Homo sapiens: one gene and its partners. The protein of the gene in region 4 purifies or fractionates together with the protein of the main gene of each other region. This does not show direct contact. Each region holds a gene or a part of one and is shown on either strand. Other genes may lie near its edges.

Evidence for each region.
Region 1: the proteins of SLC6A15 (region 4) and GOLGA5 purify together in Homo sapiens (co-immunoprecipitation; 4 studies listed by BioGRID and IntAct, with this or other methods). This does not show direct contact.
Region 2: the proteins of SLC6A15 (region 4) and KLHL36 purify together in Homo sapiens (co-immunoprecipitation; 4 studies listed by BioGRID and IntAct, with this or other methods). This does not show direct contact.
Region 3: the proteins of SLC6A15 (region 4) and GPAT3 purify together in Homo sapiens (co-immunoprecipitation; 4 studies listed by BioGRID and IntAct, with this or other methods). This does not show direct contact.

What each region holds. Positions count from the first base shown.
Region 1 is NC_000014.9:92,789,992-92,797,304, reverse strand, and holds the start of GOLGA5 (golgin subfamily A member 5), read right to left. Parts: upstream 3,001-7,313; 5' UTR 2,849-3,000; exon of another isoform or gene 2,312-2,848; intron 1-2,311. UniProt on the Homo sapiens protein: Involved in maintaining Golgi structure. Stimulates the formation of Golgi stacks and ribbons. Involved in intra-Golgi retrograde transport.
Region 2 is NC_000016.10:84,658,059-84,665,510, reverse strand, and holds part of KLHL36 (kelch-like protein 36), read right to left. Parts: intron 5,752-7,452; coding exon 5,594-5,751; intron 3,934-5,593; coding exon 3,378-3,933; 3' UTR 1-3,377.
Region 3 is NC_000004.12:83,531,412-83,539,337, reverse strand, and holds the start of GPAT3 (glycerol-3-phosphate acyltransferase 3), read right to left. Parts: upstream 3,231-7,926; 5' UTR 2,835-3,230; coding exon of another isoform or gene 2,716-2,834; coding exon 2,575-2,715; intron 1,640-2,574; exon of another isoform or gene 486-1,639; intron 1-485. UniProt on the Homo sapiens protein: Converts glycerol-3-phosphate to 1-acyl-sn-glycerol-3-phosphate (lysophosphatidic acid or LPA) by incorporating an acyl moiety at the sn-1 position of the glycerol backbone.
Region 4 is NC_000012.12:84,902,611-84,910,062, forward strand, and holds part of SLC6A15 (sodium-dependent neutral amino acid transporter B(0)AT2), read right to left. Parts: intron 1-7,452.

The DNA of each region.
Region 1 (7,313 bases), on a different chromosome or scaffold from region 4:
CCTACCTTTTACTAGCTAGGTAACCTTGAGAAAACTACTTAAATGAGGCTGAGAAATCTTATCTAGAAAATGGGGGGGAAAGTGTACTTACCTTATAGGATGGTTTTATGATGAAATAATATATAAAAAACACTTTGCAAAATGCTTGGCACATAATAAGCACTCATTTTAGTGGCTGCTATTACCATTATTACAACTACCACTACTGTTTTTATTATTATTTCTATTTTTATTATTTATTATTACTATTTCAAAGTAATAATAAATTACTGTTTTTATTATTACTATTTCAAAGAAGGGCAAATCTTTTTTTTTTTTTTTTTTTTTTGAGACGGAGTCTCGCTCTGTCGCCCAGGCCGGACTGCGGACTGCAGTGGCGCAATCTCGGCTCACTGCAAGCTCCGCTTCCCGGGTTCACGCCACTCTCCTGCCTCAGCCTCCCGAGTAGCTGGGACTACAGGCACCCGCCACCGCGCCCGGCTAATTTTTTGTATTTCTAGTAGAGACGGGGTTTCACCTTGTTAGCCGGGATGGTCTCGATCTCCTGACCTCATGATCCACCCGCCTCGGCCTCCCAAAGTGCGGGGATTACAGGCGTGAGCCACCGCGCCCGGCCGGGCAAATCTTAATGTAGCAAAAGCATCTGTTATGGGCTGAACTGCATCCCTCCAAATTCCTTTATTTAAGTCCTAACCCCCAGACCTCAGAATGTGACTGTTTTTGGAGATAGGATCTCTAAAAGGATAATTAAAATGAGTCGTCAGGGTGGCCCCTAATCAAATATAATTGGCATGTCCTTCTAAGAGGAGGAAATTTCAACACAAACAGGCATACAGAAAGGACAGAGGGAGAAGGCAGACATCTGCAAGCAAAAGAAGTACGCCTCAGAAGAAACCAACTCTGCCAATACCTTGATCTTGGACTTCAAGTCTTCAGAACTGAGAGAAAATAAATTTCTGTTGGCCCAGCCAATCAATCTGTGGTACTTTGCTACAGCAGCAAATTAAAACAACATCCAAACAGCAAATAACCAATATGGCAAAACTCCAGTACAACCAAATAAAAATAAAATTCACTGAAGTTTGTTTTAAAGTGCTAAAACTTGAAAAAACGTTTCCGTTAAATACAAAAGCTATCTTAATGTTAAACTGCAGCACTATTACATATAATTTAGGTGTGCACATAATTTATCTAAAGTACATGTTCAATAATTCACATACTCAATACCTACCATGTGCACATTAAGCTAAGTCCAGAATAAAAACCAAAATTGCATAACCACTCATTCCATACATATATTTGAGTACTTATTGTGTGCCACAATACATCAAAGTAATGATGAAGATATAGATACAGAAGGGCTCTATAATAAAGTCCACAACCATTTCTAGAATGTGCACGTTGTTCCTTTTGCCAAGAACTCTTTCATGGTTAACTTTCTTGTTCTTGGTCTTCACTCAAATGTCATTTGCTTCAGAGTTCTCCTTTCCAGCTAAGTTAGGTCAATCATTATCTGTACATACCCTATTCTTTTGCTTCACAGTCCTTCATGTTTTATAATTACGTATTTTTTTAACATGCTTCTTGTTCTTGGGGAAAGTGGGGCAGTGGCTGGATAAAGATTATGTCTGTTTTGCTCACCAATGAATTCCCAGAGTCTAGCACACAGTAGGCACTCACAAATACTGCTGAGTGGAATTTTTATATGACTGATGCTGTACACAGGTACACATGTATCTTTTATCACATGTAATTTTCACAGCCACGTTATGTGGTAAACAGCAATATCCTTTTTTTAAAGCAAATGTGGAAAGGGTTTAGAAAGATCCCAGAGTTTAGACAGCAGCTCAGATACTCAAGTCTAAGTTACCCTAGTGCCAAACCTACTTTTAACCCTTGCCTCCCTATACCATACAGCTCAAAATCTAAAAAACCTCAAGAAGAAACTCATCCTTTAAATCTGTTCTTTACACATGTGACTATTAAATGCCTATGTATTTCGGAGTTTATAAAAAATCAAATGAAAATGGAGATGAAATGCTCTGTAACATACAGAACACCATACAGGCCAGGCACTGTGGCTCACGCCTGTAATCCCAACACACTGGGAGGCCGAGCGGGGAGGACCACTTGAGGCCAGGAGTTTGAGACCAGCCTGGGCAACATGGCAAGACCCTGTCTCTACAAAAAAAGTAATAAAAAATCAAAACACGCTCATTAATTCTTTATATCTTGCCTCCCATTTCAAAATTAATTGGGCTTTAAAACATACCATGCAACTGCTACTAATGTTGCAATTAATGTCGATTACCTAATTAAATACTTAGATGGGCCCTGGGCAAACATCTCAAAGACACGAAGGACTTCAGAGGCACCCGTCAATTCCCCAGACACTGCCCAGGGGCAGAGAGTGCGTGGGATGGGGATGGGTCTGCAAAGGGCTGCGGCAGGGCCTGCTTCGAAGGCCAGGCGTCAGCACAGAGGGAGGGAGGCTGGAGGTCAGTCGGTCAGGCCCAGTCCGTAGAGCCCTGGGGTCTGTCAGTTTGGGGAATCTCAGGTAAGCGAGCAGAGACCCCCACTCTGCTCCCCACCCATCTCGTTCCGTGCGGGAAGAACGGCCAGGCCAGGCAGGGGTCAGGAGAAAGGAAGACAGAGGAGGGCAGTAAACGACGTCGGCTGAAGCCCAAGGAGTCTCTCCAGTTACCCTCCTCAGCCCCTAACAGGGCGAAGATGAGCGCGACCCGAAAGAAAACGGAGAGACCAGGGTCTCCACTGAAGGGACTGCGCCCCCGCTCCTAGGACCGTTAACACCCCCGTCTCGTCCAGTGGGCCCTCGCCTCCGCCTCACCTGAGGACTCCGGAGAGGCTGCACTACGGCCTAGCCGCCGTCCTGGGCCGCGCCCCCTCGGCGGCTGGCCCGGAGGGGGCCCAAGCTGAGTAAACCTCCTCCCCGACCCGCCGGGGCCCTGCTACCGCTTCCGGGAGACGTGGAAGGGAAGCGAGGACCCCACAACAGAGTGGCTTTCGAGCTGCCTGCACGGCAGGGAGACGCGAACAGCCACCTGCAGGCGACTCAGGCGGTGGCGCTGGCGGCTACGGGGTCCTCGCGCATGGCCACGCCCCTTTTCCGCCCGCGGCGAGAACAGGCGCGGCGCATGGCCTGCGTGCGTGTGACGTGGCTCGCCGCCGGTGGACGGCCCGCACGCCGTGAAAGGCCACACCCACAAAGGGCGGGGCCTTACTGCGGGCCACGTGGGTGACCAAAGGCGGTGCCCAGCCTGGAAGGAACGCGAGGCCTGAGTTGGGCGGGGCTTGAGACCCGGGTGGACCGGCTAGACCTCGTGTTTCTCCCTTTCCTCACCATCTCCCCTAAGTTTTACAGACGAGAATGCCAGAGGTCCACGGCAGAAGGTGGAAATAAGAAAACATGATCCGGATTGCATGGCGCTTACTTTCTAGTGGCAGAGACAGATATTACGTAACAGTGAATGGACAAGACAATTTCAGGGCGTTACCAGAGTTGTAACGACAAGAAAACGGGGAAAAGTGACTGGAGGCACGGGAGGTACTTTAAATCAGGTGGTCAGGGAAGGTCTCTCTGAGAAGATGATATTTGAGCTGAGACCCAAAGGATGGAAAAGGCAGTATTGTGGTTATGTTATGCATACAGTTCATTGACTATCTGAAATAAGTCTAAAATCCACATTCACTAATTCAAATACTCAGCACCCACTATGTGTACAGGATTGGGCTAACTTGGCCCTAATGACAAGCCTACAACACAGTTCCAAGTCTCAAATCTTTGAATTGAGGAAAGTAAGGTTCAAACAGTTTAAATAACTTGTCTAAGATCATCTGTCCTAATAAGGAGTCCACATTACTCCAAAGCCTATTCCTCGTAGACTCAAAGCTTTATTGTCTCCAAATTAAATATTGGAAGTAATTACAGCTCCTGCTTTTATTGCTCTCAGGTGAGGTTTAGCCCAGTACGGTGAAGAGAAAAATTTTCAGCAGCACCAGGAGGTGGTAATCATAATAATGGCATCTAACATTTATCAAACCTTTTATTAAGTGTAGAATACTGTGTTAAGCATTGCATGTGCCTCACTTCATTTTAATCTCACATGCATAAGGAAGGTACTATTATTCTCTGGTAGGTGGTATTGTTGTTCCTAACTATTAAGTTGCTTTTCCAGTTAAGGATTACACATCATCGCCCGTTGCCATGCGACTGCAGTGCATCCTGTAGGAGGAGCATTCTTTCCAGCCTCACTGATGTCAGGCTTGATTGTATGATCTTCTTTTGGCAGGGGGTCTTTCTGAGCAGTAGTATTAACAGTTATTACGTATTTCAACCAGAGAAATTTTTCCTTTCATGAGAATAGTCTGTGTCAGATGGGGCTGCTCTTTCAGCCTTGGTCCTGGAAGAAAAAGGGGATGTGAAGCAGCTCACATTTGAGATGTCACATGAGTGACATATAAACTTTTGCTGTTATAAGTCACTGAGATTTAGGATTGTTTTTTACACAGCCCTACCTAATAAAATCATACTACTATTAATATATTAAACCATTTTACAGATGAAGACACTGAGATTCAGTGAGGTTTAGTTACTTGCCCATGGCCACATAGAAGCAAAAGTAGAACAACTGGGATTCAAACTTGGGACAGTGTGACTCTAGAAACAGTGTTTTAATTGTCGAAGGGATGAGAATGAAATAAGTTGAGGAGGAACCAGTCTTCCACTGTATTGGACGAAACCTGACCTGAGAGGAAGAAAAGCAGGAGCTGTAATTACTCCCAATATTTAATCTGGAGACAAAACTTTGAGTCTAAGGGCACAGGCTTCGGAGTAATGTGGACTCCTTGTTAGGACTGATGATCTTAGACAAATTACTTAACCTATTTTTTTGGGTTTTTTTTGTTTGTTTGTTTGGTTGGTTTTTTGAAATGGAGTCTTGCTCTGTCGCCCATCCTAGAGTGCAGTGGCGCGATCTCGGCTCACTGCAACCTCTGCCTTCCAGGTTCAAGTGTTTCTCCTGCCTCATCCCCCTGAGTAGCTGGGACTAGAGGCGTGTGCCATGATGCCTGGCTAATTTTTTGTATTTTTACTAGAGACGGGGTTTCACCATGTTGGCCAGGCTAGTCTCAAACTCCTGACCTCAAGTAATCTGCCTGATCAGCCACCCAAAGTGCTGAGGTTACAGGCATGAGCCACTGTGCCCAGCCCTTAACCTGTTTGAGTCTTACTTTCCTCAACTTGAAGATGAAGACTAGGGGCCATGTTGTAGGCTTGTCATTAGGGCCAAATTGGCCTGATCCTGTGCACATAGTGGGTCCTGAGTATTTGAATTATTGAATGTGGATTTTAGACTTAATTCAGATATTCCAAAAAATGGCAATGGGCAGGCCCCAAAAAAGAGTATTTCAAGAATTCCCACATATACCCCCTAAGAGGTCAGCATATAGATGCCTGCCATGCATACATTATTGGGGCCAGGGTGGATTAGCCAGAGAAACAGCACAACAGAGAGAGGCTACAACCTTGCCCAATGGGTCAGAAAATTTGCTCTTTTCTTCCCACCTCCTCCCTGCCCTAATGCCACCAGTGGAGCTAAAGCCTAGAAAAGAAAGGGGAAGAAGGAAGTCTCTAGAGCTGTAGGGCAACCAAGCTAGTCTGCTCCAGAGATCAGGGGAAAGAACTTTGAATAGAGCTTAAGGATGAAGTTTTAAACAAATGGGGCTATATTGTGACTTCTGGAATGGCAGAGTAAGGAATTCAGCAAATTCTCTTCCCCAAAAAACAATGATGAAATTGGACACAATTGTAAAAAACAACCATTTCAAATTCCTGGAAATCCACCACAGGTATAACATAAATTAAAATGCATTTATTCAAGAAAAACTATTAAACCTTGGGTAACAACAGTGAGAGTCTGTGACACGTTACCATGGGGAAATTCCCAATCCCTCTCCTCCAGTTCCATGGGAATAGTTCTGTCAGGGCTGCGTAAATGTGAAAACCAGCAGCTTTGCTGCCAGAGGGGGCTGACTTGGTAAGGAGTGGTGCCAGCAAAACCCCATGGCCAAGGAGAAAGGTTGATTGGGAATGCCAACATCACAATTACCTGGGCTGCAAGACTGGTTGAGCAAACAGCTGATTAGAAAGCCTGCTGGAAGTTTAGCAGTGAGATCCAGGGAATCAGATAGCCATAGTGGGCTTTGGCGATGCGCTTATGGTCTGGAAGGCTGTGTCAGTTCAGGAGAGTCTGGCAAAAGCCCCAGTCATCTACTCAACCCTGGCGGAACATGAAGCCTTGCACAGAGGCAGAGGAGACACAGGAAAACAAAAGCCAGAGAAGCCTTGCAGAGATGCAGAGGAGACACAAGAAAACCCAGCAAAACAAAAGTCAGAGCAGTCTTGTAAATTGCCTGAATTTTGAATGTTCTTCAACCCATTTAGATGACACAGGTCCATCAAGAAAGGGTAGAAGTCTTACTGGCTTGAGGTGTCTAATTACCACATCTGATCAATCATTGACTAAATTCTAAGCTATATTGACCTTGGTGAAAACCTTAGAAAACCAACCTTAGAAATAAACGTAAAAGAGAAAAAAATAAAACTGAGCAGAAACATCAATGTCAACACACTATGGAAGAGAAACTCTGCAGAATTAGTCCAGGCAAGTCACACAACAAATGTATAAACTAAGAAAAACAACAAAAAACACCCTCTGAGGGGCACACCAAAACACAGGAGTTGCTACACTATATTATCTAAATTGTCCAGTTTTCAATTAAAAAAAAGCAGACATGCAAATGAACAGAAAAATTGACCATACACAGAGGTGAAAATCAGTATAAATGTTGTGAGATGTTGGACTTAGCATATAAGGACTTCAAGGAAGTTACTCAACCATGAGATCAAGTCTCACACAGCACATCTACTCTATTTAAAAAAAAAAAGAAAAAAAATATGTCCAAAGAACTAAGTGAAAATATGGCAGCCAGCTGTGGCAGCTCACACCTGTAATCCCAGCACTTTGGGAGGCCAAGGCAGAAGGATTGCTTGAGCTCAGGAGTTTGAGACCAGCTTAGGGAACATAGTGAGACCCAGGCTCAAACAAACCAAAAACAAAAACAAAAAAATTACAACAATGCTTCATAAAATAGGGAATATCAGTAAAGAGATAGGGATTATTTTAAAAAGCAATGGAATTCTAGAATAAAAGTACAATAAGTAAAAAATAAAAAATTTCACTAGAGGAGTTCAATGCAAATTTGAGTGGGCTGAAGAGACAATTAGAAAACTT
Region 2 (7,452 bases), on a different chromosome or scaffold from region 4:
CAGTTGATAAAATAATCTCTGTGCATTTAAAACAGCAGGAAGTTTGCTATAAGTAACAAGGGTTCATCAGCTTTCTACTCCCTCCCTTCTATTATTATAATACATCTATGTCTTAAGCAAACAGCTTTCCAACTTGGGTGAGGACCAAACCCCAAACTTACAACTAATATGAAGTTACAACTCTAATTCTTTAGAAATGAGAGAAGTCCAAACCTCAATAGAAGCCTGCCATGCTTATTTTGAAATGTTAAAAAAAAAAAAAGATCCAGGTGTCTTCAAAATTCAAGCAGAATAGCTTGAAACACTGAAAGTTTAACATGATGACATGTGTGGCTGTTTCCCTCTCAAAATGGCAGCCTGCAAGCACCTGTGCCTTCATCACTCTAGTTTAAAACCCCACATTCGTGACTGTGCGGTTCAAATGGCCACTGCATAAGCACAGCCCAAACTCTGCCCATCTGAGTTAAAAAACATTTTATTCTTTTGAGACAGGGTCTCACTCCGTCACCCAGGTTAGAGTGCAGTGGTGTGGTCATAGCTCACTGCAGCCTCAACCTCCCAGGCTCAGGTGATTCTCCCACCTCAGCCTCCTAAGCAGCTGGGACTACTGCATGCCCCACCATCCCTGGCTAATCTTTTGTAATTTTTTTGTAGAGATGGGGTTTTGCCATGTTGCCCAGGCATGGTCTCTTCCATTTTCAGTTCCATTTTCATGCACAGTAGGGTGAATTTTCAACTTAAAAAGACAAGTAACAAAAACCTGGCCCGGGCACCACCACTGGGTGCCCTTGTGCCCATCCACTGACCCCAACAAGCTCAAAAACCTTTCTTGTCACAGTGTAGCCACCATCAAATATTAGAAGTTGACCCACAAGATGAAACTTGTTTATCCTCCCTTTAAAAGGGTGGTCCCAACCTTAGTAATATTAGGGTCAAAGCCATGTCAATTACAAACCACCTTCATAGTATCAGGAGAGACACCACAAAATATGAAGCGCAGGACGTCGTATGTAACTCATGAGGCACAAGAAAATCAGAATAGAGGCCAGAAGCTCACACATTTCCAGGGACAAGTCCCAGAAGCAAAACATAAAAGAGCTGGCTTAGGCTGAAAACCAATGGCTCTCCTCTCTCCAAGGTCAAAGCTATCCCACTCCCCAAATCACTCACAGAGTCTTTCTATGTGCTCTCCCCAACTTGCCCCGAGATTCAGGCCAAACAACTGCCCGTTTGTTCATGACCCAGGCTGAGATGGGGAGAACAGCCCACGTACACCCTACCCTGCCTTCTGAGGGGTCTACAAGCAATAAAACCTTTCCCGAATAGGAAGGGGGTAAGCTATCCCAAAGTTGGCAGAAGTTCTGCAAAACATGTTTTGTGGGGGTCTGGGACTAGGTATGAGACAAACGACTTTTAGGCTCAAAGAAGTTTGGAAATGCTGGGTTGAGACTTCTCGGAACCTTTCATACACCGGAATGCTGCAGAGCTCCAAGCAGAGTTTCCAGCCTTTTGGTCTGTTTGTTTGTATGCCTCGCAGAACCTCTCAACAGTTTGTAAGCCTCCAGGGACTTCACATGCAAATAACTAGCTAGCTGAACATGCAGACTGCCCTCCTCACTAACCACAGAGGGCAGTAAGTTGGCTATTGAAGCTTTCAGTCCCCAAAATGCTCTCATCTCTTCTGGATGGCTACATAAACAGACCAGTGAGAACCACAGTAAACCCTGAAGGGAAGGGAAAGGAGGGGCAGCAAAGAAGCAGAAGAAATGGAAATTAAAGTTAACTAAGATTTTTTTCCTAGTCTAATATCAATCTTAACACATTGATCCTCATCCACTCGAGCAGCTGAGAGCCCTCTTAAAGGGCAAGTGACATCGAGACCTGCTCTCGGAACTGTCTGCAGGAAGACTGGTGTTAGACTAGGATTGAAGATGAAGCACATCTTGAAGTTTACTGATCTCTGCCATCGGATGCTGGGTGAGGTACAGCTCATTCATGCCTTCCTTGGCTCATGCTTAAAACCCATCACACTCCTATCCTCCCATAGTTCTGCACGTTTCTCATCCACTCGGGCAGCTAAGAGCCCTCTTAAAGGGCAAGCGACCCTGACACCTGCTTTAGGAACTGTTTGCAGGAGTCAGTGCAGGCCAGCTCCACATCCTGAAGGGGATGCCATCCGGGTACGAACAGCTCAGAGGCTGAATGGCCCTATCACCCGGGAGGAGCCTGGAGGGTATTCCATCTAATCCTGTGGCTAAGCGGGGTGGATGAGGGAACACACGGACTTGTTCGAGAATTTGCCCAGCAGCACGAAACTACTTAGAAGCAGAAAACTGGGGCAGGACCTGGCGTGGGAGTTAGGGAGCCCTCCACTGCCTTCTCAGGGATCCACATGTGCTCCTCTGTGCAGGAACTTTCAACAGCGCCTCAAGATAGAGTCACAGAGAACGATGGCAAATTCCATAGCACTCACTTTTTCTTTCCTGAGAAATAAACAGATTTGGGAGCTCAGTACATCAGTAATATAAAAGACAGTGGGTTCAGAAAAAAAAAAAAGGAAAAAAATGCACAAATTACAAAAAAATATGTATAAAGAGCTTCATACCTTTTTTCGTTTTTGGTTACCTGTAACGTTTTAGAATTCAAGAAGGTTTCCAATGAGGAAAGACGGAATTATTCAGAAACAGCGTTCACCTGATACGGAGAACAGCTCCCCAGCGGGAAGTCATCATGTCTCATCTGACAGTCTAGCGAGCTGCGTGGCCCCTGGTCACTCACTCACTCACCCTCATGGGTGGTCTCTGTGCACTCATTTATAAAACAAACACACTGGACCTTGCCAGTGATTCCCAGATGTGACTAATACCCAGAATTCCAAGAACTAGTTAAAATACAGCTTCTGGGCACCACCTCCTCCCCGTTCCTGGTGGTTTTGGATTCCATAATTCTGAGCGGGGCTCACGCATCTGTATTCTTAAAAGTTCAGCCAGGTTTGGGGAGGCTTGGACTAGGTGGCCTAAGAGAACCCTTTGAGGCCCAAGCTTCACTACAGAAATTTCTGTGTTACCCACGTGCCAGCTACTCTCAGGGGGACAGTCAGCAAGGACCCATGAGGAATCATAACACGGGGCAAAGACCTGTGAAGATACAAGGGGTTGCTCACTGCCTGGGCCCAGGGTTAGTTATTCAAGCAAGATATGTAAAGTTACAGATAGTATTTAATTGGTTACTGTGATATCATAGAAATACCAAGAATCATAAAAGTAAAAAAAGCTGCTAAGTTGTACATAATGTTTCCGGAATACTAAGAAGTTGCTGCTGGTCTACAGAGCCCTGGGAGGTGACGGTGAGGATGGTCCCAAGAGGCGCAGCTAGGGTCACTGGCCCCGGTCCTGGTGCCTCTTGCCTTTGCCTTTCTTCTTCTTGTCCTCTGGCCGTGGCTCCAGGGCGCAGACACAGGCGGACCCGCCAGCGATGGCCTTGGGCAGGTCGACGCCCCTGCTCCACTTGTCGGCCTCGCGGTCGTACACCTGCACGGTCTTGGAGAAGGCAGTGTTCTCCCAGCTGTAGCCGCCCAGGATGTAGATGCGGCCCTCCCACACTGCCACGCCCGACTCGCTGTTGGCGTGCAGCAGCGGCGCCACGCGGGTCCACTGGTTGCACTGCGGGCTGTAGGCCTCCACGCCCAGCACGTCGAAGCGCTCCATGGACTCGATGTTGTCATCGCTGCCCCCGATGGAGTAGATGCTGTCACCCAGGCTGCACATGCTGTGCCAGCCGCGCGCCGTGGTCATGGGCCGCCGCTCCTCCCACACGTCTGTCCGGTGGTCGTAGCATAGCAGGTTCTTGCGGTAGGGGCCAATTTGGTAGTCGTGGCCCCCCGAGATGTACACGAAGTCTTTGTAGATGGTGCCCGCGTGGCCGTACGTGAACCTGCAGGGTCGACGGGCAGAGACAGAGGGAGAGCTCAGGGCTGTGCCAGGCTTACCCCCTCCGAGCCGGGGAACAGCCTGCCGTCTTAGAGGGCCATGAGGATTTAAGAATATAGGGAGTGGGCACCCCATGAACACTCTATAGACAGTAGCCGTCATTAGCAAAGAAATGGCAGGGCAGGGCGGGGAAGTGGACAGCTTTGCAGTCAGGCCGCCTGGGCCAGAACCCAGCTTCACTCTCTCTGAGTCTCCCTTGCCCCATCTGGGAAATGGGAATAATCACAGGACCATCACCCTTTTCACAATGGCTGGAAACGACTAGAACAATGAGCTAGCAGGCACACATGCACCCGATGAATCACACATCAAAGAGGAAATACGACATACAGTCCAATTCTAACTGTGCTGGCACTCGGGAAAAGTTTTGCCTAAAACCATAGAGACAGCAAAATCAGTGGCTGCCAGGACTGTGGGGAGAGGGGAGGGAGGGATGGACAGCACGCACACAGTGGGCTTTAGGGCAGTGAAATGATTCTGCGTGATGCTGTAATGGTGGATTCATGTTGCTTTGTGTTCCTCAAAACCCACACAACTGTGCCAGGAAGTGGGAACCCTGATGTAAACCAGGGCCTTTAGTGAATAAGAAAGGATCAATATGGCCAGGTGCAGTGGCTCATGCCTGTAATCCCAGCACTTTGTGAGGGTGAGGTGGGTGGATCTCTTGAGGCTAGGAGTTCAAGACCAGCCTGGCTAACATGATGAAATCCTGTCTCTACCAAAAATACAAAACTTAGCTGGGTGTGGTGGCAGGCGCCTGCAGTCCCAGCTACTCAGAAGGCTGAGGCAGGAGAACTGCTTGAGTTCAGGAGGCAGAGATTGCAGTGAGCCGAGATCGCGCCACTGCACTCCAGCCTGGGTGACAGAGAGAGACTCTCTCTCAGAAAAACAAAAATACGAGCGCTTACCCCACACACTTCTAACTCTTACGGACACCTGGATGTATTCCACAGCAAAGACTGGTTCAGAAAGTGCACTGCTGGGTGCGGCAACAGGGAACTGGTGGAAAAAATGGTGTGCACCTTCTGCTAATCCCATGGAGATAATAAATGCTCGATACATGCACATCGGAACGCAGGGGAGACTGAGGAGGGTGAGGCGGCCACCCTGGGGCACTCCCTGCATGTGGATGCAGGTTTCACAAGCAGCACTGCATCTGCTCTGCACAACAGTGCTGTGGGGTGGGTATCATTATCGTCTACCTCTACAGATGAGGAACTAAAGGCCGAGCGGGGTGAAGACCCATGCCTGAGGCTTAGATCTAGCACATATACCCCCATCTCTTTGAACTCCTCCTGCCCAAGCTCAGGGAGATCCTCAGGTCAGGCCTCACCCTCTGAAGCTCAGCAACTGCACACACTCAGCCATGGAGGGATGTCCGTCATGGCGGCAGAGCTGACCCTTGCCCTAAGTCTGAAACCGGAGCCCGGACTGTGCACCGTCACGCCCTCCGCCCCTCATGGTGTACCCACTCTTCCTGACAAGCCGGAAGATTTCATTCCTGGAATTGGAGGCCAACATGCCCAGAAAGTGAGGCACGTGGACTGAACTATGTCCCTTAAAAACATCCCATTTGGAGAACCTTCCACCAAGCCCCAGATCACCTTGGCAAGCCGGCCACATAGGACCAGGAGTCAGTCTTGGGACTGTACGTCTCTACTGAAGAGAGCGCTCCGTTCTCATTCCGGCCGCCGATGGCCACCAGCATGTCTTCGATGGAGGCAAGGTAGAAATCCACACGGCGCTGGTTCATGGAGGCCACCTGTGGAGTTGAGATACCTGTACCTTCCCTTCCCCGAACCCGGGACAGCATCAACATCTGGCGCTGCGGTTCCCAAATGTGTCTGCGGAATGCACAACCCCGGAGAATGTTTGGGAAAGGGAACTGCACCTGAATAAAGAGGGCTTCTTCAGGTGGGAGCTCTGAGCCCCCGAGGTTTCACCAAGATGCTCTGAATCCCCAAAAGTGGGATGGAGACGCTCTGAGTCCCCAAAAGGGGGATGGAGATGCTCTGAACCCCCGAACTTCTCTGGTCATGTCGTTAGCCGCGTGGATGGGAACTCTGTGGTCACAGGGGTCAGAATTGCTGATCTAGTGGCTTTATGAAATAAAAATTCATCTTTCCTCTCCCCACATCAGATTTGTAAAGTTAGTGCTGCTCTGCCACTCCGTGTTAACAGAGCAGGACGTGGCATTCGACAGGAAATTAAACAGAAGAGGCTGGGCGCGGTGGCTCACGCCTGTAATCCTGGCACTTTGGGAAGCCAAGGTGGGTGGATTACCTGAGGTCACGGAGTTCGAGACCAGCCTGGCCAACATGGTGAAACCCCGTCTCTACTGAAAATACAAAAATTAGCCGGGCGTGGTGGCAGGCGCCTGTAATTCCAGCTACTCAGTAGGTTGAGGCGCCAGAATTGTTTGAACCTGGGAGGCAGAGGTTGCAATTAGCCGAGATCGTGCCACTGCACTCCAGCTTGGGTGACAGAACAACTCTGTCTCACACACACACACACAAAAAGTAGAAGAGCCAACTTTTTTTTTTCTTTTTTTAAACGAATCCAAGGCAAACACACTGCTGCCACTGCTGCCAGGCTTCGGGAGGAGGCTCCAAAGCCAGGGACCCTTTCCAGTGGTGACACTTCGACCTTGGAGGGCAGTCTCAGATTTCTGAGAGTAAAATCAAAAGGTCAGCTGGAGTCCATTCTGACTGGGTTTTGAGCTGAGAACAGCACTGAGCTGGGCGCGACGCTGAGGTGTGAGTATAGAGGCTGAGATGGACTGTCCCGGGGACCGAGTGGCTGGAGAGCGCTCCCAGCAGAAAGGAGACACCTTCCCTACGCCAGGGGCTTGCCAGTCAACATGAGCTACTGCACTCCCTGTCCCCCACGTATTCCCAGAAGGGGAATCCAAAATGTGGAGAGGACAAGAATCTGAAATTTCCTAGCTATGACTTAGCCAGGCTGGGATGAGACCTCAGGTCTGACATCAAGGCCCACGCTCTTCCCAGAATCAGGACACAATACATGCCCAAGGGCCAGGCGTGAGCACTAGTGGTCTCCTTAAACTATCTCCCAAAATGCTTCCAGAGGAGCCCCACAGAGACTCCAGGACCTGGGGATGTTGAACCATGGATCAAACATCTAGACCCATGCTACTGTCCAATAGGGTAGCCACGCCTCGTGCGGCCACATACACTTACACGTCAATCGGTTAAAGTGAAATAAAATTGAAAATTGACTTCTTCAGTCGCACTGGCCACATTTCAAGTGCTCAGTCGCCACATGCGGCTGTGGCTACCGTATCGGGAAGTACAGACAGACCCTTCCATCTGCACAGAAAGCCCCGCCAGGCAGTGCTGCTCTGAACGATGACGGACCCCTCGAAGGGGTGGGTCGGCTCTCCCTCTCCCTGTCCAGGATGTAGGCCCCGGGGTATTCTGCTCGTCACTTTATCATCACACCT
Region 3 (7,926 bases), on a different chromosome or scaffold from region 4:
AATGAAATGTAAAGAAAAATACAACTAAATCAATTAAGAATTTACCAAGGAGTGATACAAGGGCTAGGCCTTGAATGCAATCTACAGAAAGGCAGGGTATTTGGCCAGCACTGAAGATGTTCTAATGCTAAACATCAGCATAATCCCTTAAGGAATTATTCCTATAGTTGAGAAAAGCAATCCACCGTATTAACCCCAGTCTAACAGAAATGTCTTTGAAACATCTAACACTGTTCTAGTTGAAGGATAGAGGATCCTGGGTTACTGTTCTCCTGCACCTAAAGCAGAAATCACTATGGGATCACAGCTCTCTTTCCTGATGAGCTCAGATGCTCCCAAACATAGGAGTTCCAGGCAGCCGCAACCAACAAATCAGAGCTGGCTCACACAATGAATCTGTATTCAAATTCCACATATATCAAGCATCTCTTTGACCTAATAACTTAGTCTCAGCAGACAGGGTGGGTTCCTGATGTGTCACCTACCTGGTTTCCAAGTTATCTGGTTTCTCCCACCAGAATTAGAAAACTGGCATTCTTGTCAGTTTGATTGACAAGGAGTTCAGCTCTGGAGTTATCCAGAAGGACAAAAATTAAAATCTCTGGCCTGTCAAACTGAAAGTCAGATCCTGGACTGGAGATCATCCTATCAGGTATAATAATTTGCCAGGCTGACAGCAACTAGCTGGCCTCCGTCCTTAGCTGACCTTGAGTTACTAAAGAAAAACAGACAGAAGTGAGCCCCTGGAAGCCAGTGGGTGTGATTTACCTTTACACCATTCTTACACAGGGTATAAATTCCAAAAGACATTGCTGTATGAGAGAGCAGTTCAATCATTTCAGAGTTCAGAGAAAGAGGGAACACCAGCTGAAGAGGATCATCTGCTATGGGAGAGGATTCTGAAGATCTCACATTAGGAAGCAGTCAAGAAATTCACAGCATAATGTGACCAAGCTCAGAATGTAAAGTCAATAAGAAGAGTTCAAAACTGAGAAATAGCTCCCAAGTAGAAACAGTAGAACTTTAAAAACATGAGCACTGAGGATGAAGAATCACATACAACTTCAAAGTCTAGGCAAAGAAATAGCCACAAACAAGAGTCTAGGGCAATACAGGAGGCTAGCAAGTACAAGACAATGTCCAGTGGGTTAGAGATGTATACCTGGGAGCCACCCAATTAGCTGAGAAAGAAGAGCAGATAAAGCCACGTCCTAAGGGCAGAGAGAAAACAGGTCACAAAAATGGGAACCAAACTTATTAGAAGGCACTGTGGAATGCCAGAATCTCAGTAATCATATTATTCTTTTAATAGCAACAAGCATTCATACAGTAGGTGCAGGCAGCCTTCTAAGGTGCTTGATACCTTTTAACTCATTTGAACAACCCTATGGAAATAGGAGTTATTGTTACTCCTATTTTATAGATACAGAAAATGAGGCACAAGAGTAGATGACCTCCCTAAGGTCACATTTTGAGAAACAGAGCTACAATTTTGGTACCAAATCTAAGCAAACCTGTATCCAGGGTCCCTAATCCTAACCACTAGGCTGCAGGGCCTCTTCTCAGTTGAGATGCCTGTTTCTGGCCAGGCGTGGGGCTCACACCTTTAATCCCAGCACTTTGGGAGGTGACGGCAGGAAGATTGCTTGAGGCCAGGAGTTCAAGACCAGCCTAGCCAAGATAGCAAGACCCTGTCTCTTATGTTAAATATACACACACACACACACACACACACACACACACACATATTATACATATAATTAAATTTTTTTTTAAAAAAAGACTCCTGCTTCTAACACTTAATTCAAAGAAACCACTGATCTCTGACTCTCAGTTTCCCTCTCTGTAAAAGGGGGTTGGCACTTGCCCTCCCTACCCTACCCAGCCTTTTGACACTTAATAAAACCCTAAGAGTAAGCTGCAGTTGTTCTCTACCAGGCCTACTTCCATCTAACATTTTTCTTTGCAGGATTTGGAAACAGGAGGGTAGGGAGACCTGAGGTCAAAGAATATATACCTTTTCAATGGCATTTCAAGTGCTGTTGGTTAGATAAAATTTCCATGACTCCACTAAAATAAAATAAGATTTCTTTCTGCCATCCAGCAATTGGTCTCTTATCTTGGGCATAAAGAAGAACATGATGCCTTTCTGAACTGGATGCCTTAGTACACAAAAGGACCTCTGAAACCTGGGGCTGTAAAAACAAGCGGGTGAAGCGGAAACTGCACTGCATAATGGATATAAGCAAATCCTCTGATACAAAAAGTTGGTCGCATTGTTGTTATTCTAATCAGTAAAATAATAACGATGCTCAGGGAGTGGAATGATTTTTTCGCCTTCGACCAGAGAAACAACAGAGTGGTCCAGTGGTTCCAGCCTAGATCCCTCCAGCTCCGCGAAAGAAGCCGAGATGCTGACTTTCGCACTGCTGCGGGCAAGGAACAGAAATGCACGCACGCATGCACACGCGCGCACACACACCCCTGACTCGCGACCACTGACCTTGAGAACTGGACCCCCGGGTTCTCAGCCCGCAGCGGTGTGGGGCTGGCTGCATCCCTCCCGGCACTCACCTCTAAAGTTTTCACTAGGATCTTCATGTAGATCTCGGAGATGCCCAGAGACACTCCGAAGACCGAAGGTAAAAGGATGAAGCCGAGAACCAGCGTCAGCCAGGTGGAAAGGATCTTCCCGGCCAGCTCTGCGCCCTCCATGACTCGGCGCACCCACTCAGGAGAGGTCCGCAGTGGAGGGCCGAGCGCCACAGCAGTCCCTGTCCCCAGGCAGTCCCGCGGGAGCTCCAGGAGCAGAGCGCCGAGCCCGGCACTCACCTCTGCGAAGGGAAGAGAGGAAGGAAAAAAACTTTCAGAATTACGGCAATATCCTTCCTTCCTCCCTGGGCTCCTCCTCGCCCCTGCCAGTTAACTCTTTCTCCGCTGGCTGCCCAGGTCTGGGCTGAAGCCACCGCGGCGTGCGGAGACCTGGGTAGCGCGAGCCAGTGGTCGGAGCTGCGGGTAAGCGGAGGCACACCGCGGCGCGGGCAGAGCGCGCGAGCGCAGCCAGGAACCCGCCCCGCCCGGTGCCTGATTTCCTCTGGGTGGCGATTGCGACAACTCAGCAGATGACTCACGGAGGCCCTCCCCGAGCCAGGTTCCCTGCGGGAGCACCGCACTTTGGCACACCGGTCGCCGGCGGAGCTGGCACCGGGCCGCGGGCTGTGCTGGAAGCTGGCTGCGCTCGGGCGCCCAGCGCCCTATTTCTGCGCGCTGCCCTCGCCCCACCTCCTCCGTCACCCAACGGGGGAGCTCCCTGGCAGTACTTAGCCCAGGAGTGCCGCAGCCTCCTGGGCGGTCTCCGTTCTTCCCCGCGCCCCGCCTCCCCCAGCACTCAGCAAAGGTCCTTTCAGGAGGAGAGTTTTCATCTGAAAAATGTCAATATTTTCTTCACCCGCAGAATGAACTGCTGACGTATCTGGGACGCTTGAGGTCTTGTTTGTGTGGGTGTAAAACGAACTCTTGGAAAGGGCTTCCAAGGACAGGAAAACGCAGAGCGCACCACGCAGCCGTGTACGCCGCTTCTGGCTTCCACACCTCCTTCCCCACATGGCCTACAGCTGTGGGGCTCAATCTTGCTTATCCCGAGAGTAGGAAGCTCTCTCCACGCGTTGCCTAGCCCACTGAGCCGCCATCTCCCTGGCACAGAAACCCTGCGGCTAAGTATCTGTCACTCCCTTTCTGGGGGAAGATTCCAACCACACCTTCCCCTACCATTCAGCCAATACTATCCGCGCTTAGGCGTAGCAGAAATGCCAGGCCGGCGCAAGCCTTCATTCACCAAGCTGACAGGTGTCTCCTGGGTGTTCAGGCTCCGCGCTTCTACCGCGCCAGCCCTTATCAGAGCAACGAAGGGCAAAACCCTGTATGTTATTTACTACATTGCTGTTCTCTTAGAGACCAGAACTATTTTTAAGAATGAGCAGAAGGGATTTTGAGAAGGGATTTTCCAGATTGCCGCTGAATTCGACCAAAATCTCTTACAGGTACTTTTCAGGTGTTGTTTCAAGCTGGAAAAAAACTGAGAGGGCCAGCAAACTGAATTGAAACAGCGCTGATAGCAAATATTGCAGAGAAAATGGTCCCTGCCCAGGGTGTGGAGGAAGTGGGGAGCCAACGAAGTGACAAGCCCCTCTGTAAAGAATGTAGATGTCTGCCTTAAGTACTTACTGCCAGGTAGCTGTCACAAGCCCCCTCCCACACTAAGAACGGAAAAAATTATAACTTGATGATTAAAACCAGGTTATGGACCGGGCGCGGTGGCTCACGCCTGTAATCCCAGCACTCTGGGAGGCGAGGCGGGCAGATCATCTGAGGTTAGGAGTTCAACACCAGCCTGGCCAACATGGCGAAACCCCCGTCTCTACTAAAAATACAAAAAAATTAGCCCCGCGTGGTGTCGCACGCCTGTAGTCCCAGCTACTCAGGAGGCTGAGGCAGGAGAATCACTTGAACCCGGGAGGAGGAGGTTGCAGTGAGCCGAGATCGTGCCACTGCACTGCAGCCTGGGAGACAGAGTGAGACTCAGTCTAAAAAAAAAAAAAAAGGGTTATGAATGAAGAAGTGTTAGGAGCTTGGTTTCTCAAAATTAAACCTCTGTAAGGTTGGCTAGTTTAGAAAAACACGGAAAACGCAACTACCGAAAGCTGCCCAAAGTCCTTGCTTTCAAACACTATATATATTGAGTGCAAAACTTCAAATATTATATTGGCATATTTAACACCATATGTTCAGGCAAAACTCTTATTTTCCTTTTATTTCCTCAAACCAAGATAACTAAGGAAGGCTAAATCCTTGTACCAAAGTTTACCCCACAAGGGAGATAATACACACAACTTTGCGTGTGCTGAGTGCACACACTCTCCAGTGATTTTTGGTGCTCATGAACAAACTCCACAAAATGGTTTTGGTTTGGTTTTGTTTTAACTGTTACGGAAGAATTATTCGTCCACAGCTGTATGGTGCAATGGTAATAAAATGGAATTTGGAGTCTTCGATTGAGAGCAGCACGAACACATATAAGTTTGAGCAAGTGCTTCTGTGCTTCACCTTTCTCATCAGGAAGATGGGTTCTTCTCAGGGTTGAAAGTGATTGTGAGCATGAAACTGCATGGTAAATGACAAAGCTCTATGCAGAGATCAGCAGGCAGCCTGGTGCAAGGGCAAAAACTCTTCATCTTTTTCTTGCCTAAAAGGCAGGAGAGCCAACACAGGCTCCCCAGGGTAACAAAGGCTCATCTTTGCAGTGATGGAGGAGGGTGAGGGAAGAGAAGAAATGTAGGGTGATCCTGACCCTGTCTCAAGTCGGGGAAAGTTGGTCCCGACTTGCCGCTCTCCTTGTCTCTCTTTCACTCTCCTCACCTCTCCTCCCTCCTCCATTCCTTGAGACTTAAACCTAGGTAGGAACCTACTTTCTCCGTCCCTGAAGTCAAGACCCCCTTTACTTACTGTATTTGTTTCCTAGGGATGCCTTCACAAATCACCACAAATTTAAGGACTTAACACAACAGAAATTGATTCTCTCAGTTCTGGAGACCAGAAGTGTGAAATCAAGGTGTCTGTCTGTAAGGTCACACTCCCTCCAAAAACTGTAGAGGAGAATCTTCCAGCTTCTGGTGGATCCCAGCATTCTTTGGTTTGTGGCAGCACACACATCTCTGCCTCAGTCTTCACATGACCTTCCTGTCTCTTCTTCCCATCTTTTCTTTTACAAAGACACATTATTCTGGATTTAGGGCCCACCCTCATCCAGGATGATCTAATCTTGAGATTCTTCCCTGAATTAAACTTAATCTGCAAAGACCCTTTTTCCAAATAAGGTCATATCCATAGTTAGGGGTGTTAGGACTTGGACATACCTTTTGGGGAAGGTGCAATTCAACCCGTTATAATTACCATCTCTGTAAAATGAGGATAATAACACCTACCTGCAGAGGTTGTTATTGGGATTGGAGAGTATGTATTAAATGGTAGTTGATAGTCAATGCTTAGTAATGAATTTATCCATAATCCTGTTTTTTTACCTATTAATCCAGGCATGTATATATATACATGCCTCCCCAAAAGATATGTCCAAGTCCTAACACCCGTAACTATGAATATATATACACACCTGTATATATATACACTTACACACCTGTGTGTATATGTACACATATATATACATACATATGTGTATATATGTGTATATATATGCATATATATACACATATGTATATATATGTGTGTATATATATATACACACAAACAGCTGATCTCTACATATATATGTATGTACAGGTGTGTATGTATATATATATACAGGAGTGTGTGTATATATACACATATACATATATACATATATAATACACACATATTATATATATTATATGTACACACGTATACTATATATACAGTATATACATACAGTATATATACATACATTGTATATATACTGTATGTATAGTATGTATGTATATATACACATATATAGTGTATATATAAGTGTGTATATACATATAGTATACTGTATATATATACATACTGTATATATGCAAAGCTCTATGCAGAGATCAGCAGGCAGCCTGGTGCAAGGGCAAAAACTCTCCATCTTTTTCTTGCCTTAATCTGCAAAGACCCTTTTTCCAAATAAGGTCATATCCATAGCGGGGAGATCACCTGCCTCGGCCTCCCAAAGTGCTAGGATTATAGGCTACGTGTATGTGTGTGTGTGTATACATATATATATATATATATATTTTTTTTTTTTTTCATGACAGCCTCAGGAGGTCCTGACGACATGTACCCTACTGCACTCCAGCCTGGGCAACAGAAGAAGACCCTGTATAAAAAGCAAAAAAAAAACCCATTGAGGTCCAGCTAAGTGTATGGATATCAAAGCAAAAATAATTGATTCCAAACAGCTGCCCTTACCTGTTAACTCATTGTGTTATTCAAGTCTTCTTCAAGCCTCTGCTTTTACAGCAATTGTGGCCAATGTGAACAGAATTTAGGCTAAAAAACTTTGAGCAGTTGTCAATATTGTCATGAATAGAAGCCTATGGCAAATAATACGTCATAGCTGAAGCCAAACAAAGACTATTCGTTCAATTTAAAAGGTATGGTAGAACTCAGAAGTCTGGGGGTGAAGCAGACTTTTGAAGTACTTTATTCAACAGACAAGTTGCATTGCTTATCTCCAGTATCTTTATAAAATCTTTCTTTTCTCTGGTTTTATTTCACACATTTCTTGAGCTTTCATTATATCCTGCCTTGGTTTGTGTATTAGATGAATTTTCCCACTGTGAACTCATTGCTTGATATCAGAAGCTACAGCATTCATCATACCTTTCTGCCTGTTATTCTACCCCTTTTCCACCTGCACAGAATTTCACTTCTTGACACACCCTTGTTTAAAGCCAGCAGCAACTTCTGTAAAAGAAAAACTTCAGCCAAATTAAATTTAAAGGAGTTTAATTGAGCAATGAACAATTCACGAATCGGGCAGCTCCCAGAATCACAGCAGATTCACAGAGACTCCAGGGGTGCCTCATGGTCAGAAACAATTTATAGACAAAAAAAGTAAAGTGATGTACAGGAACAGAACAGCTAGATTGGTTACAGGTTGGTGTTTGCCTTATTTGAACACAGTTTGAACACTCAGCAGTCTATGAGTGGTTAAAGTATGACTCCTGGGATTGGCCAACACTCAGCTATTGTTACAGGCACATACTCTTTTTTTTTTTTTTTTTTTTTTTTTTTAGAGACGGTGTCTTGCTCTGTTGCCCAGGGTGGAGTGCAGTGGCATGATCTCAGCTCACTGCAACCTCCGCCTCCCAGGTTCCAATGATTCTCCTGCCTCAGCCTCCCAGGTAGCTGGGATTACAGGCAGGC
Region 4 (7,452 bases):
TGGGTGAATGGTTAAACTGTGCTACATTCGCACCATGAACCACTACTCAGCAGTAAAAAAGAACTATTGATACATGCAACAACTTGCATGTACCTAAAGGAAATGATACTCAGTGAAAACAATATAAAAATGCCAATTTCAAAGAAATACATATATAACAATTTTTATATAACATTTGTGAAATAACATAATTATAGAAATAAACAACATATTCATGGTTTGAAGAGTTAGGGATGGAGAGGGTAAATGGGTGTGCTTATAAAAGAGTAGCAGGAGAGAATCATATGGTAAGGCACACAGGTTACTATCTTCATTGTGGTAAGGGATAGAAGAAGGTATACATTTTATAAAATTTCACAGAGCTATAAACGTGGACATACTATGGATTATACCAGCATCAATATGCTGGTTTTTATATAGTACCGTATCTGACATAAGATGTTAGTGGTGGGGAAGTCGAGTAAATGGTGCATACACCTCCATGTGCACCCTTCTGTGAAATCGTAATTATTTCAAAATTAATTATAATCATAAAGCAATTTCCATAAATTGGAGTATATTTTTGTTGACTTCTGTGAATCAAAGATAGACAATCTTTCAAAATTCTTTTAGAGATTTCTGAAGTAGACAAAAAGTTTTTAAGACAAAGTTTTATTAACGTAAGGTATACCTCATGTAAGTGACGAGTTAATGGGTGCAGCACACCAACATGGCACATGTATACATATGTAACAAACCTGCACATTGTGCACATGTACCCTAAAACTTAAAGTATAACAAAAAATAAAATAAAATATACTAATATGCCCTAAAAAACATTGAGAATAAAAAAAATTACTTCAAATTTAATGTCTTAAAACAACAGAAATGTATTCTTTCATACTTCCGGAGACCAAAGAATCCAAATTAAGTTACAGTCAACCAAAATCAAGGCGTTACCAGGGTGGTATTTTCTCGGGAGGCTCTAGGGGAGAACATGAACCTTGCCTTCTCCAGTTTCTGGTGGCTGCTGGCATTCCTCAATTTGTGGCCTCATTACTCCATTCTCTGTTTCTGTAGTCAGATTGCCTACTTCCTTCTACTTCAGTCTAACATCCCTCTCCATCTTTCCTATAAGGATGCTTGTCATGGCATGTAGGGCCCATCTGGATCTTCCGAAATCATATCTTCATCTCAATACTATATCTGCAAAGACTTTTCTTCCAAATTAGGTAACATTTATAGATGTCAGGAAGTAGGAACTGGACACATCTTTAGGAGGCATATACTATTATTTAAACTAATTTATACTATGTTTTCTAAAAATATTAATTTAAAGGCACTGAATATGTTTTATTTGTTCATACATCCTTATACAATGTTGTTTGATCTTTTATAGTTATTTGTTGTAGTAGGCTGTTTTCCCTTCTTTTAAATCTGGGTTAACTTTGGTTTGCTTTGACCAGAAGGTAGCAGCAGTGAAACTATGCAAGTTCCAAGGCTATAGAAGCTTGGCAGTTTCTGCTTTCCCTCTTTTGGAAGCTAGGCACCATGTAAAACGTCTGCTTCTCCTGCTAGAAACCCCACATGGAAAGAGGGAGAGAAAGGGAGAGAAAGGGGGGAGGGGCGGAGGGGGAGAGAGAGAGAGAGAGAGAGAGAGAAATAGTCTCAAGCAACCATCATCTGAAGTGAAGCTCCAGGCATAAGAACAAAGGTATTGATATTCCAGCCCTAGCTGAACAGCCAGGTAACACACCAATTAGAGCAAATGAACCACCCAAATGAGCCCAACCACCCCACAGAAGAATGATTTTAAAAAGTCATTATTTTAAGACACTATGTTGTAGAATGGTTTGTTGTGTAGCAATAGATATCTGAAACATTTGTCTATGGATAAGATTACTTATGTATTGGATTTAACTAAAATTATACAAACTGTACTGAAATTTAAAATATTGTCCAATAACCTGTTCACAATGTGGCTAGATCTATGTAGAGGATATGTGGTTTAGGTTTTTAAATACACACAGTGATTTCATAGGTATTAGAATAGAAATAGGTATTAACTTTCAAAGCCACATTTAGTCAATCATATGTAAAGCTGCATAAAGTCAATTTCATGCTTAAGGCATCTTGGATATCGTAAGTGAAACAGGAATTATCATTGCAAAATCTGCAGACATCAAAATGACCATGAGAGAATACTAACAAAAACTCTACACACATAAATTTAGTAACTGAGGTGTAACCAATCAGTTCCTTAAAAAACACAAACTACCACAACTTAGCCAATAAGAAATAGAACATTTAATAGCTATATAACTAATAAATAAGTTGAATGCATAATTTTAAAACTGTCACAAAAGAAATCTCACTGGAAAATTCCACCAAACATTTAAAGAAGAATTAACATCAATTCTACACAATCTCTTCAGGCAATAGAAGATGATAGAATAATTTGTATTTCATTTTATGAAAGCAGTATTACTCAGGTACCAAAACCAGGCAAAGATCATAGTAAAAAATAAAAAACTACAGATCAATATTCCTAATGAATATAGACACAAAATTCCTTTACACAGTGTTAGAAAACAGAATTCAGTGATGTATAAAAAGAATTATATTCCATGATCAAGTAGGGTTTATTCTAAGTATTCAAGGTTGGTTCAATATTCAAAAATCAATATGTGATATACAATAATGACAGGCTAAAGGAAAAATCACATGACTATATCTACTGATGCAGGAAAGACAAAATTCAATGTCCATTTATGATCAAAAATGTCAAAAATTAGGAACAGAAGGAAACTTTCTCAACTTGATCAACAGCATCTACAAAAAATTTACAGTTGATATTATATTTACTGGTGAAAGACTAAATGCTTTTCCTTCAGGATAAGAAGCAAGATAAAAACGTCCACTCTCACACTCTTATTCAACATAGTATTGGAAGTTCTAAGTAGTGGCATAAGGCAAGAAAAAGAAAATACAGTCAGCCCTTAGTGTCCAAGGGACATTGTTGAAGGACCTCCCACAAATACCAAAATTCTCAGATGCTCAAGTCCCACATTCATCTGTGGGTCCTGCATCCCACAAGTACTATATTCACATCTGCATTTGGTTGAATCTGTGGATGCACAACCTAAGGACACAGAAGCCTAACTGTATAAGTCACATAAATCAAGAAACAAGAAAAGTCAAGTTACAAATTTATGTATAAGTCACATAAATCAAGAAAGAAGAACAGCCAAGTTACAAAAGATTTCCATCACATAAGGATTCCCTGTGTTGGCCTTTTTTAACTACAACCACTGTGCTCCAGTCCCCAGGCTCTCCTTAACTCCTGGCAACCTCTAATCTGTTCTCCATACTTATTTTTTGGTCATTTCAAGAATGTTATATGAATGTAATAATACAGTATTCAATTTTTTTGCAGATATTTTGATTGTCTATATTATAAATTCTAATGAATCTACAAAAATACCTTCTAGAGTAATAGTCCAAAAAAGTCACAGAATACACGGTAAACATACACAAATCATTTACAGTTCCATATGTTACCAATAAACAAGTGAACACAGAAATTAAAAATGCAATAGCATTTACAATCATTAAACTGACATAATTACACGAAAATGTAACAAAACCTGGATGGTACATTTTTGCTGAAAACTACAAAGTGCTGATAAAGTAAATGAAAGAAGATCTAAATGTATGGGAAGACATGCCATGTTCATGGATTAGAAAACTCAACATAAGAAAGATGTCAAATTTCCCTAAATTGATATATGGTTAAATGAATTCCTATCAAAATATCAGTGACATTTTTCTACAAAGAAGATTATTTCAAAATTTATATGAACAGGCAAAAAATTAGAGGAGCTACAACAATTTTAAACAGAAGAATGAAGTGGGAGGAATGATTCTATCGAATTTTGTGACTTATTATATAGCTACAGTAATGAAGTCTATGTGAGGTTGGTGAAAGGATAGACAAAAATGAATGTAACAGAAGAGGCTACCCAGAAAGAAGTGCACACAATATGCCTAACTAATTTTTGATAAAAGTACCAAAGCAATTTCAATGGAGAAAAAAATAGCTCTTTCAACAAATTGTTCGGGAAATAATTGGACATCCCTAGGCAAAAGTATAACCCTGAACCTAAATCTCATATCTTATACAAAAATTAATTCAAAATGAATTACAAACTTAAGTGGAAAATATAAAACTTTAAGAAACAAGTCATCAGATTAAATCTTTGAGATCTAGGGTTAACCAAAGAGCTCTTAGACATGACAAAAGCAGGATTCAGAAACACAAAAATTGATAAACTAGGCCCCAAAATTTGAAACTTTTGCTATGAGAAAGAATCTATTAAGAGGATGGAAAAAAAAAAGCTTAAAAATGGGAGAATATATTTGAAGGTCACAAATGACTGGTGTTTAGGATATATAAAGAACTCTTAAAACTCGACCGTTGCCAGGCGCGGTGGCTCACGCCTGTAATCCCAGCACTTTGGGAGGCCCAGACGGGTGGATCATGAGGTCAGGAGATTGAGACCATCCTGGCTAACACGGTGAAACCCTGTCTATACTAAAAATACAAAAATTAGCCGGGCGTGGTGGCGGGTACCTGTAGTCCAAGCTACTTGGGAGGCTGAGGCAGGAGAATGGTGTGAACCAGGGAGGCAGAGCTTGCAGTGAGCTGAGATCGCGCCACTGAACTCCAGCCTGGGCCACAGAGGGAGACTCCGTCTCGAAAAAAAACAAAAAACAAAAAAAAACTCGACCATTATAAATAAAATAAGAAAACAGGTAGAGATATTTCAATGAATATTATATATGAATGACAAAGAAGCACAAGAACTGAGGCTCGATATTATTAGCCATTAGGTAAATGCAAATATAAAATACTATGAGATGTTGCTATATTCCTATCAGAATGGCCAAAATATAGTGACAACCAAATTCTGGCAAGGATGCAGAGAAAATGGATCATTTATTCATTACTGGTGAGAATGTAAAATTGTACAAACACTCTGGAAAAGTTCGACTGTTCATTTAAAAACTAAACACACTGCTACCACATAACCGAGCAAGTGTTCTCATTTATCCCAGATAAATGAAAATTTATGTTCCAGAAAAGCCTATGCAGGAATGTCCATAGCAGTTTTATTTACATTAACCCTAAACTAGAAATAATCCAGATGTCATTCAATGGGTAAATAGTTATAAATTCTGGCACATCCATACCATTAACTACTATTTAGCAAAAACTACCAATATACATGACTTAGATGAATCTACAGAAAATTATGCTGAGTGAAAAAACATCAATTCAAATACATTGAATACTGTATGATTACATTTATATAATATTCTTGCAATGACCAAAAAATAAATATGGAGAACAGAGTAGAGATTGCCAGGAGTTAAGGAGAGCCTGGGGACTGGAGTGAAGTGGTTGTGGTTATAAAAGGCCAACACAGTTAATCCTTATGTAATGGAACTCTTTTGTAACTTAACTGTATCAATGTCAATATTCTGATTAGGAAGGTTTAATATAGTTATTACAAAATGTTATATTTGCAGGAAATTTGTCAAGAGCTCACAAGAACTCTCTGTGTTATTTCTTACCAACTACATGGGACTCAACACCCATCTCAAAATTAAGACTTTTTTTAATACCCTAAAATTATGCCTTTTTTGCTAGTATAATTAAATAACTTTATTGAATCAAGTACTAAATATGCTTCTCCAATATAATTTTATTTCTAAAACTCTTGAAAGAGGAAGCTTTCTTGTAAATTCAGAAACAACAACAAAAATCAGGGGGTCGTCAAAATACTCATTGACTTTTGTACCTTACTAATTCCATGGCATGTGATGAATGAATAAAACTCTACCAAAGGTGTTTATTTGCCTCTGTCTTTACTTTAAAATATTTTATATATTTATATTTTGAATACAAAATACTGTAATAAGATATTAAAGGGCAAAGAGTAAAGAAACATATATATATATATATATATATATATCTTCCTACCCTTTCTCCCTAGAATATACTGTACCATCTGTACCTCCCAATAAGTAACCAAAATCTTCAATAAATATTTTCTGTATATTCAAGCATATATATATGTGTGTATACACACTTAAACACTCTATATATATTCAAGCTAATATGTGTTTTCTCCCCACCAGCCCCCAATCTGCTTCTTTTTACACAACTATTACTATGTGCATAATTCTACCTCTTAGTTTTTCACTCTAATAAATTCTTCAAAACTCTTGATCTCAATGTAATAGCTTCATTTAAAAAACTACTGTATGATATTCCTTGGTATGGTATACCATATATTTAGATCATCACTGATAATTTGCTACTACAATGTTCCAACAAATTATTTTGTATATCTTGCATCTCCATATCTGTAGAATAAATTCCTAGAACTGGAACAGCTTGATCAAAAGGTATGAGCTTTTATAATTTTGATAAATATTACCAAATAGCCCTTGATAAAAATTGTGTCCATTTGCACTACCACCAGCAATGCATGAGAGTGCCCGCTTTCTTCTACTGTCTTCTGTATAACAAATAATCTCTTTGATCTTTGCCAATCTGATAGGTGAAAAAGTTCCCAAAGTATGCATTCTATTTAAAAATAAAAGTCAATTCATCTTATGTGAAAAGATACCTTAGCACATTAATCACAAGGAAATAAAGTGACCTTCAAGGCTGAACACAACTTACAGCTCTGCCCTGTGTCAAGTGATACTCTGCATTTGAAATTGCCCTATATCCCAGTTTATTTTTAGGGCTTGTTGTTCACAGAAAAAGAGATGATCATTACTGGTCAAAGTTAATATTTAAGCAGATAAATACATCAAAAATTGTTTAGTAAAGACAGCCAGAAGAGTGGTATGATAAGCAAAGTAGAAATAAATCTAATGATTCCTGCTATGTAACCTTGAATGTTGTTCATGCATCCAACTATGCCTGTAGATTTTTATTAATACTATCTGCTGAGAAACCATTTCAAAATCTACTCTGCACAGCTGCATAAGAATATACTAATATATCCTATCATGCATATGTATGTAGTAATAAAGAATTAACATACTCTTCCACAAGGTGAGAGGTCCATTGAGAAGTGAAAGAAAAGTTTTTAGGAGCTTTTGATAGCCACCAAGCTCTCTTTTGGGTCTGCTATTCTAAGTCAATGATTCAATTTCCTAGATGATATAATCCCAGAGTTAAAAAGAATGCAAATATCTTACCTATTCATATACAAATTATATTTTATGACAAGAGAAGCATATTTACAATTTCAACTATGATCACTGGGTAAGGTAGTAACTATGAATACGGACTTTAGAGTTTAGTAACTATTCTGACTTATTTTAAATGTTTCAGTAGGTGACAAGGAAGGCATCTCATCTGATTATTGGCATCTCTCATAACTGTTATCC